2 linked regions of the Homo sapiens genome follow. The protein of the gene in region 2 purifies or fractionates together with the protein of the main gene of each other region. This does not show direct contact. Each region holds a gene or a part of one and is shown on either strand. Other genes may lie near its edges.

Region 1 (3,500 bases), about 110 Mb from region 2:
GTGCTCATGTGGAATAAACGAGATAATCTGTATATAGGATAGCACTTGGCACAAAGCAAGTGCTCAGTAAATGTCATTATTATTACTGTTACTGTTGTCGCTCAGGCTTGAAACATTCTCTCTTGCATTTATGGTTAATCCCCCTGCTGAGGGGTGGGAGAAAGCAGGACCCACAAAAGGGACAATACAATTTCAACACAGTTCGCATTCCTCCTTATGACCGCATCCCTCTGGCTTCCGGGGCTGCTTCTGCAGGTTCTCTTTTCTACATTCACCACAGAGAGAGTGGGCTCCAGCCAAGAACCCCAGCTCTTCTCCCTCCAGACCTTCTTATTGGGGATCACATCCGATGCTGTTGTTTCTGTCTTCAATTCGTGCCTGCATTCTGTATCATCTGTACACAAACACTCTTTTTTTCCTTTAAGTAGCTAAAATCAAAGTTTTAGGAATCATCTAGTCCAACTCCTTGAAAAAATTAACTAAGCCAGATGCAGTGGCTCATGCCTGTAATCCCAGCACTTTGGAAGGCTGAGGTGGGCAAATCACAAGGTCAGGAGATCGAGACCAGCCTTGCCAACCTCATGAAACCCCGTCTCTACTAAAAATACAAAAAATTAGCTGGGCATGGTGGTGGGCACCTGTAATCCCAGCTACTAGGGAGGATGAGGCAGGAGAATCCCTTGAACCCGGGAGGCAGGGTTGCAATGAGCTGAGATCGTGCCATTGCACTCCAGCCTCAGCAACAAGAACGAAACTCCATCTCAAAAAAAAAGTTAATTTCAAAATTAAAGCAGTCATTTAAAAATTGTCTTGCATGATTACATTTGAATAAAGTAGGCCTTCTCCCAACCAATCTACGTGTGTTCACCTGTCCTCACTGCAGTATGTATACTGCGCACAAATATTTGGGTTTTCACTGCGCAGTACCAAATATTTGAAGTTTTCACTGTGCATTGTGGGTCTGTGATGTTACCTATTCCTCCTACCTCACAGGCCTAGTATGTTATCAAGCTCCCACCAGCATTTCCCGCCCACACCCTCCCTCCCCCAGACACTACATAAGTATAAATTGCTAATGATTACTGATAAACAGGACACTGATCACAATCACAAACTCTCACACATTTGCACACCCGAACATCCCCTGAGGCCCACAGTAAACATGAAAGGAGGGATGAAATGAGATTCCAAGGAGACAGGCATGGTGTTTGTGCACAGTGAGGGGAGAACAAAGAGAACAGGGAGCCTGGGAGGTGGCAGGCAGGGAGAGCTGGCGAGACAGACTATGAGATGAGTCAGAGAGAGTGAATGAGGGCACTGGGTCGCATCAACTACCACTTAGCTGCCCCCAGAGGGTGGCATGAACTGGAAGAAGGGAATGGGAGCTGGTCAGGGAAGAAGCGGAGTTGATGCCATAACTCAGAAAGGGGGGACAGGAGTGAGCTGCAGATGGGGAGCCTGCCTTCTGAAATCTCCTAGACCTCTCCTGCCTGGCTCTACTCCCAGCAAGCTGCAGGGTTATGGCAAGGCAGCTGGGATGGCAGGGTAAAGAAGAAGTCAAGCTAACAACAAAGATGTCTGTCCTGGAGATCACTGGACCCCAGCTTGGTGGACAGAAGCCACCCCATAGCTGCTAATGCCTTCCATGTATTTGGTGCTTTCAACTTATTTTAAATGCCCTCGTGCTAATGATCTCATTTAATCCTCAACCCTGGGAAATAGGCAGGACTGGGGTTGGTATCTCTAACATGCTCCTCCCCTCTTTACCCTGTAGATTCCTCAAGAGCCCTCAAATTGTTTCCACCAGCCTAGAAACATCCGACACTGAACCAGGCGGTGCCTTGGGGCTATGGGGAACTTGGGTCCTCTGTCTAGGTTCCATTTTGGGTTGCTGGCTGCTGATTGTCCTAGGCTGAGTGTGATGAGAAGTCACAGGGTATGGAATCATTCCTGTTGTGGAATTTCCCAGGCACTCCTCCCCCTTTGCTTCCATCTGAACACCTGGTACATAGTGACTGTTTCACCCACTCCCCAGGGAGCAAGGTCAGGCTTCTCCTCCTCATTAGGTGAATGGAAGCCTGAGGGCTGGAGAGGGAAAGGCGGTTGCCCTGAGTCACACAGTGAGCAAACATGGAGGAATCTGAGATGCCTTGGAAAGAGCACAGGGCTGGGGGCATCAGAAGACCTGGGTTCCAGTCCTGGCTCTGCTGCCTATCACCCAGGGTCACGAGCTGATAAGACACTCACTCCACCTCCCCAGCCTTAGTTTTCATAACTGTTGAATGGAAATAATAGTACCCACCCCTTGGGGTTGTTGGGAGGATCGAATGAGATTAAGATGTCAACGCCTTATATAAAAATGAATTACTCTGATTATCAAGTAGCACAGGTAACATTAGGACTCAAGCAGTGGAAAGAGGCTGGGCTCTTCCATATATAAAGGGGCTAGGCTCTCCTCAACTCACCTGTGTGGCCCTGGGCAAGTCCAGGTCTCAGTTTTCCAAAGCTCCTGCCAACTCTAAGACTGTGATATTTTGTGGGCTATGCCTCTGGTGCAAGAATTCTGGTGCTGGCCGCCCTGATCTCTTGGCCGTTCTATCATCTGTGCCCCATACTGCCTTAGATCCAAGGATCTCACTGAGGGAAACTGGTCAGTTCCCAACAACGGAAACCTTCACCCCATCCCTCAGGCAGCCGAAGTGTGTTATTGCATTTTCCTCCCTTCTTAGCCTTTGTTGCCTTCCAGCTTTCAGGGAGGTGGGGGGTCTTCTTAGCAAAATCAATGGCAGATTGACCAGGTAAGCAAACACTGGATTCCCTCCCTCCTAGGGAGGGCTTCAATCTAACGGCCCTGCCTCTAATATCTTGCTTCTCTCAGGATGTCCCTAAAGGTTCCAGGCCCCTGATCCTTTCCTTGAGGAAACAGCTCAGCATAACTCTTCCTGGGCTCAAAGAAGTGAATTAAATATTAAATATGTAAGGCCAGAGCCCCTGCTGCAGCAGCACATTCCCAAAACAGACAATGGCATACAGCTCATCTGTCACTCTCCCAGTGGCTGTAGGCTGGGCCCCCCTGCTCCCCAGCCCACATTCCTGAGAAGGAATAAGAAATGGCAATATTTTGCTCTTCCCAGCAAGCTCATGGCTTCCTGTGTCCTTCCTTCCACCCCTAGTGTTGAAGGCTCCAGGGGCCTGGAAATGCCTGGAACATTGAGTTGTGGCATCCTCAGCAATGCAACTTAATAGGTCTATGACTGGACAGGGAGGGGCCTCTGTAGTTAGCCCCATTAGAGCCTGGAAGGTCCCGGGGGTGAGGAAACAGCTCAGGAAGGATGCTGAGGTCCTGACATCTCTCAGGGTTATGGGGAATTGGATATTAACTGTGATGAGGCCTCGGGGCAGGGGTCGGTTGGCTTGCTGCTCAGATTAATATAGGCCATAGAATTATCAGATAGGTAGAGCCTCAGAGATCACCCAGGCCAACCCTCTATTTTACAGAA
Region 2 (4,079 bases):
ATGAGCCAGGAAAGACAGCCAGGCATCACATCAAGAATATCCCCGTCTTCATGGTCAGAAGTCTGGCATCAAGGGCCTTCAACCACAGTGAAGAAGAATTTAAAGCCAATCAGCACAGTAATGTGGTAATTTTGCCAACCAAGTCCTGAGGCTTGGGTGTTTGCAACAGGAAAATGGATATTTAATTCATTCATTTATTTAGCATAATACATTGAATAACTACTCTGTGCTTAGTGCTGTAGCTATAAGAAGTATTATATAGCAAGCAGCCCTTGCTTTCGACGGAAAGAGGTATTTAACAACATGGCAAAGAGCTCCAGATCCCAGGGCAAAAAATGGCACAAGATACCATGACAGTCGAAACAAGTGAATCACCACTTGGACCAGGAGAGTCCAGGAAGGCCCCCCGCCCCTAGGTAGGAATGTCAGGGACAAGGAAGGCTCCAGAGAGAAGGGTAATGGACGGGTGTATGCGATCTAGCTGAATACTGGAAACTGAGGTCCAGGCTTCAGTGAGAGAATGAAGTGGGAAGGAGGAATCAATGAAAAAGTGAAGAGAAGGTTCCACTGGAGAGAGGGGCCCAAAAGAGGAAAAGCAAAGCAAGCTGTGGCCATAAGAAGAAGTCTGAGACTTGGAAGTAAAGCACAAACACTGAGTATCAGAGTTGGGAATCACCTCAGGTATCCCAGCCTGTACCCAGTGCAAAATGCCTTCTGAACTATTTCAACTGCTGAGGCTGCTCCATTTGCTTTTAGGCCATTATCTGTAAAATAATCACAGAGTTCTCTTTGGTTTGCTAGTGAAAACAATGAGGAACAGACACCTTAAGAAATGTAACGAGAGCCAAAGACAAAACGGGAATGTTCTCTCTTTGCCAGACCACCTTCATCTGTACACCTGCACATAGCCCTGTTCCTACAAGAAGGCATAGGAACCGCGTGTGGGTCCCATTTCTTTTTCAATATTTAAGAACTTGAGAAGTGGGACACATGCTGGAATGAACACAGGAAGCTCAGTTTCTAGTTGTAGCTTTGCCACCATCTTACTGGGTGCTCTTGGACAATCACTTCTCTTCCTTGTGCCCCAAGTTTTCTTCTGTGAAAGGATAAACTTTGATGAATAGTTTGAAATCTGTTTTAGCAGCAAGTCCCTTATTTTAAGCAAAGAATTGCAAAGAGCACTGAGCTCTAATACACAAAACATATCTAAGCCTAATGTGTTCTGATGGAAAAAAATGGAGCTGACAAAGAGGCAGGATGTTACCCACCTTAGGACTCCCTGGAAAACAGTCAAATATTTTGAGGCCTTTTGACACTGGCTTCTCACAATTCTGAGACTAGAGACAAGGAAAAGGTAGTGAAGGCTGTCACCATGTTTCTGGGCTGGTGACAGAGCAGCTGAATTCAGGAGCAAGCCAGGCTCCTGAGTGAGTCATGGGGTTCACATGCGGAGCTAACAGGCTAACAGCCACTTCTTGCCAATCCGTGCAGCGGGCTGGGCTGTCAGGTCTAGAGGGCAGGAATCAGCTGGGATTTGCTACTGGTTGCAAGAGGCTGAACTGCAGGCACTGAGGAGCAGAGCTGGTAGCTTGAAGGACAGAAAGACAATTTTTCACTGGGCTCTTAAGCAGAACTCCCGGGTGGCAACAGAGAATAGCTCACGGGCCAGCCGGTGCAGGTGGGATAAGAGGTTCCTGTCCAGGCTGGCGGCATACATGAAGCTCACTCTTCCTATTTAAATCCCAGAGAATATCTGGAGAGTTTTAAAGAGCCCTGAGGCAGGCAAAAGAGAACATGTGGATTTTGTATACCGATCTAGCTCAGTGTCAAAGTTTGCCTTTTTCAGTAGTACATTAACTTGGGTTCCAACTCAGAAGACAAGTCAGAACATTGAACATTTCTCCAGATACTCAATGTGAAAAGAATCCAAATAGAAACAGTTTCAATTTCAAAATATTTTTTGATACATACACATTCCTGAGGATGAATGAGCCTGTGTGTGTGTGTGTGTGTGTGTGTGTGTGTGTGTGTGTGTGTTTGGGGAGAGAGTGTAGGTAGGAGGGGACGAGAGACCATAAACATCAACATCCACACACTAGAAATCCATAAACCACAGAAAGAATCAGAGACAAAAAGTGGGTTCTCCCTGCAGTGTACCAGTTCATGAAAAAGTAGCCTTCATAGTTGTCTGCTAAACTTTCTAGATCAGCCTAATAGTTTTTTGGTTGGTTGTATCTCTTTAAAAAACAAAAACAAAACAAATGAAAAACCAAACCTGACCTCCCTGCAGAGGCAAATGAGGATTAGCCATTCAGTATCTCCTTATCATCTGCATCCTGGTATTTGTTCTCAGAGACAAGGGGTCCTCTACCCCTAATTCCAGTCCACTTTAGGGCCCTATAGTTACTTAGAACAAACGCATACTTGCTGTGACAGCCGAAAGAGCCTGGAGAAATATGTAAACATCATCATCTCACTTTAGAAGGAAAACAAGCTGTATAAATAAGAAAAACTGTTACAAGAGTTTAAAAAAAAAATCCCAACAGTCTTACTTGTAGTTAGCTCTTCAGTCAACACATATCACAGTCCTGGAGACAGACACAGGAACTACAACTCTCTCCAGCTAAAAATTTCCTCCCGCGGTTGGTTATCCTCTGTTTATTTTTGAAGCATTCAAAGGCCACGCTAACAGAACAGACTCGGTTTTCCTGAACATCCACAGCGGCTGGGAAGTCCTGCCGTGAATGCGGAGCAAGTTTGCGGAGACTTGCTCCCTGGGCTGCGGCTCCGTAGTTGCTTCGAGCTTGTAAATACAAGCTCCGTGGACAAAGTCCCAAATGACATCACTGGCAGCTGCTTATTGTTGAGTCTTTATTAACTGACTGTCAAAAAGAAAGGAGGGGGTGGGGAGGAAGAGTATCTCTTCTGCAGCAAAATCGGCATCTTGGAGTGGATTCCAGTTATACATGCGTAAATAATCCCATTGATTCACATTTTTGAGAGGATGGCTTCTTTCAGGTCTGAAAAAGACAGAGAATCGCCTCCACCAGCTTACACTGGAATAGCTGGAGACCTGGAGGAAAAGTTTGAAGTGCCAGCACAGCCCTACCAAATTGTTTACCCACCTGTTTCGAGTCAACTTCAGAGCCTGATGATTCATGAATATATGAATACTGGTTGTGTCTTACATTGCTTAATTACTTTTACTGTGATATATACACCTGGCCGACATTTTTCCTAGATAGATTGTCTTGGGTGCAACTCCTTTTAGATACATTCTAGTGTCTCAGCTTGGAGTAGAAGGAAGGGATCCTTGAAATCACAGCAACATTTTGTGTGCATTTGCAAATATGCAATTTTTCTTTTCCTGAGAAGAGTGCTGGAGGCTTTCTTCTGATTCTTAAAATTTTAACCACCCACCTGCACCACCCCCGACACTCCAAAAAACAAATAAATAAGAATCTGTGCCAAGTCTTTCTAATAATCTCACAGAACACTGTAAATCCCACTCACAACTATCAAAATAAAAGTGGGCCTTTTCTCCCCTATTTTCCACTCTCTCATGGAATCTCTCTTCTGTCCGTTGGTTCTTATAGTTTTTACAGTTATCTCCCCTCCAACCCCTAGCCCCCACCTAGAGAAATTCCACAGATCCAACACCTAGTCTCTGCCACGAAGCGCGAACACTCCAGCCCACTGTTTTCCTTCCTTCCTCTGGACTGCTATAACGATGCTTACTATTTATATTTACTTGCTGCTTTTTATATACTGACTAGTATTTTTAGTTTGTTTTTTAGCCATCTGTGTTCTGTCTCCCCAACTCAGTTTGAAAGGTCTTTGAGGGCTGCCTTGTAAGTGTTATTTGTTTATACCTAAATCACTTGCCATAGTGAATCCTAAACAGAAATGTGGGAGGTGGGGGGTGAGCATTGAGGGTGGAGGCAGGAACAAGGTTAGCTGATTCTGTGGCATGGAGTGTATGTTTAGATTAAGCTCTCTCCCTGGCCTTGGAAAACAATGACCTCACATCTCACTACCCCCAGCAGATGCTCATTGCATGTCTGAAAATTATTTCCTCA

What was found.
Region 1: the proteins of NCKAP5 (region 2) and KIF3C purify together in Homo sapiens (affinity purification with mass spectrometry; one large-scale study listed by BioGRID and IntAct). This does not show direct contact.

The regions. Positions count from the first base shown.
Region 1 is NC_000002.12:25,975,998-25,979,497, forward strand, and holds part of KIF3C (kinesin-like protein KIF3C), read right to left. Parts: intron 1-3,500.
Region 2 is NC_000002.12:133,565,664-133,569,742, forward strand, and holds the start of NCKAP5 (nck-associated protein 5), read right to left. Parts: upstream 2,801-4,079; 5' UTR 2,553-2,800; intron 2,419-2,552; exon of another isoform or gene 2,281-2,418; intron 1-2,280.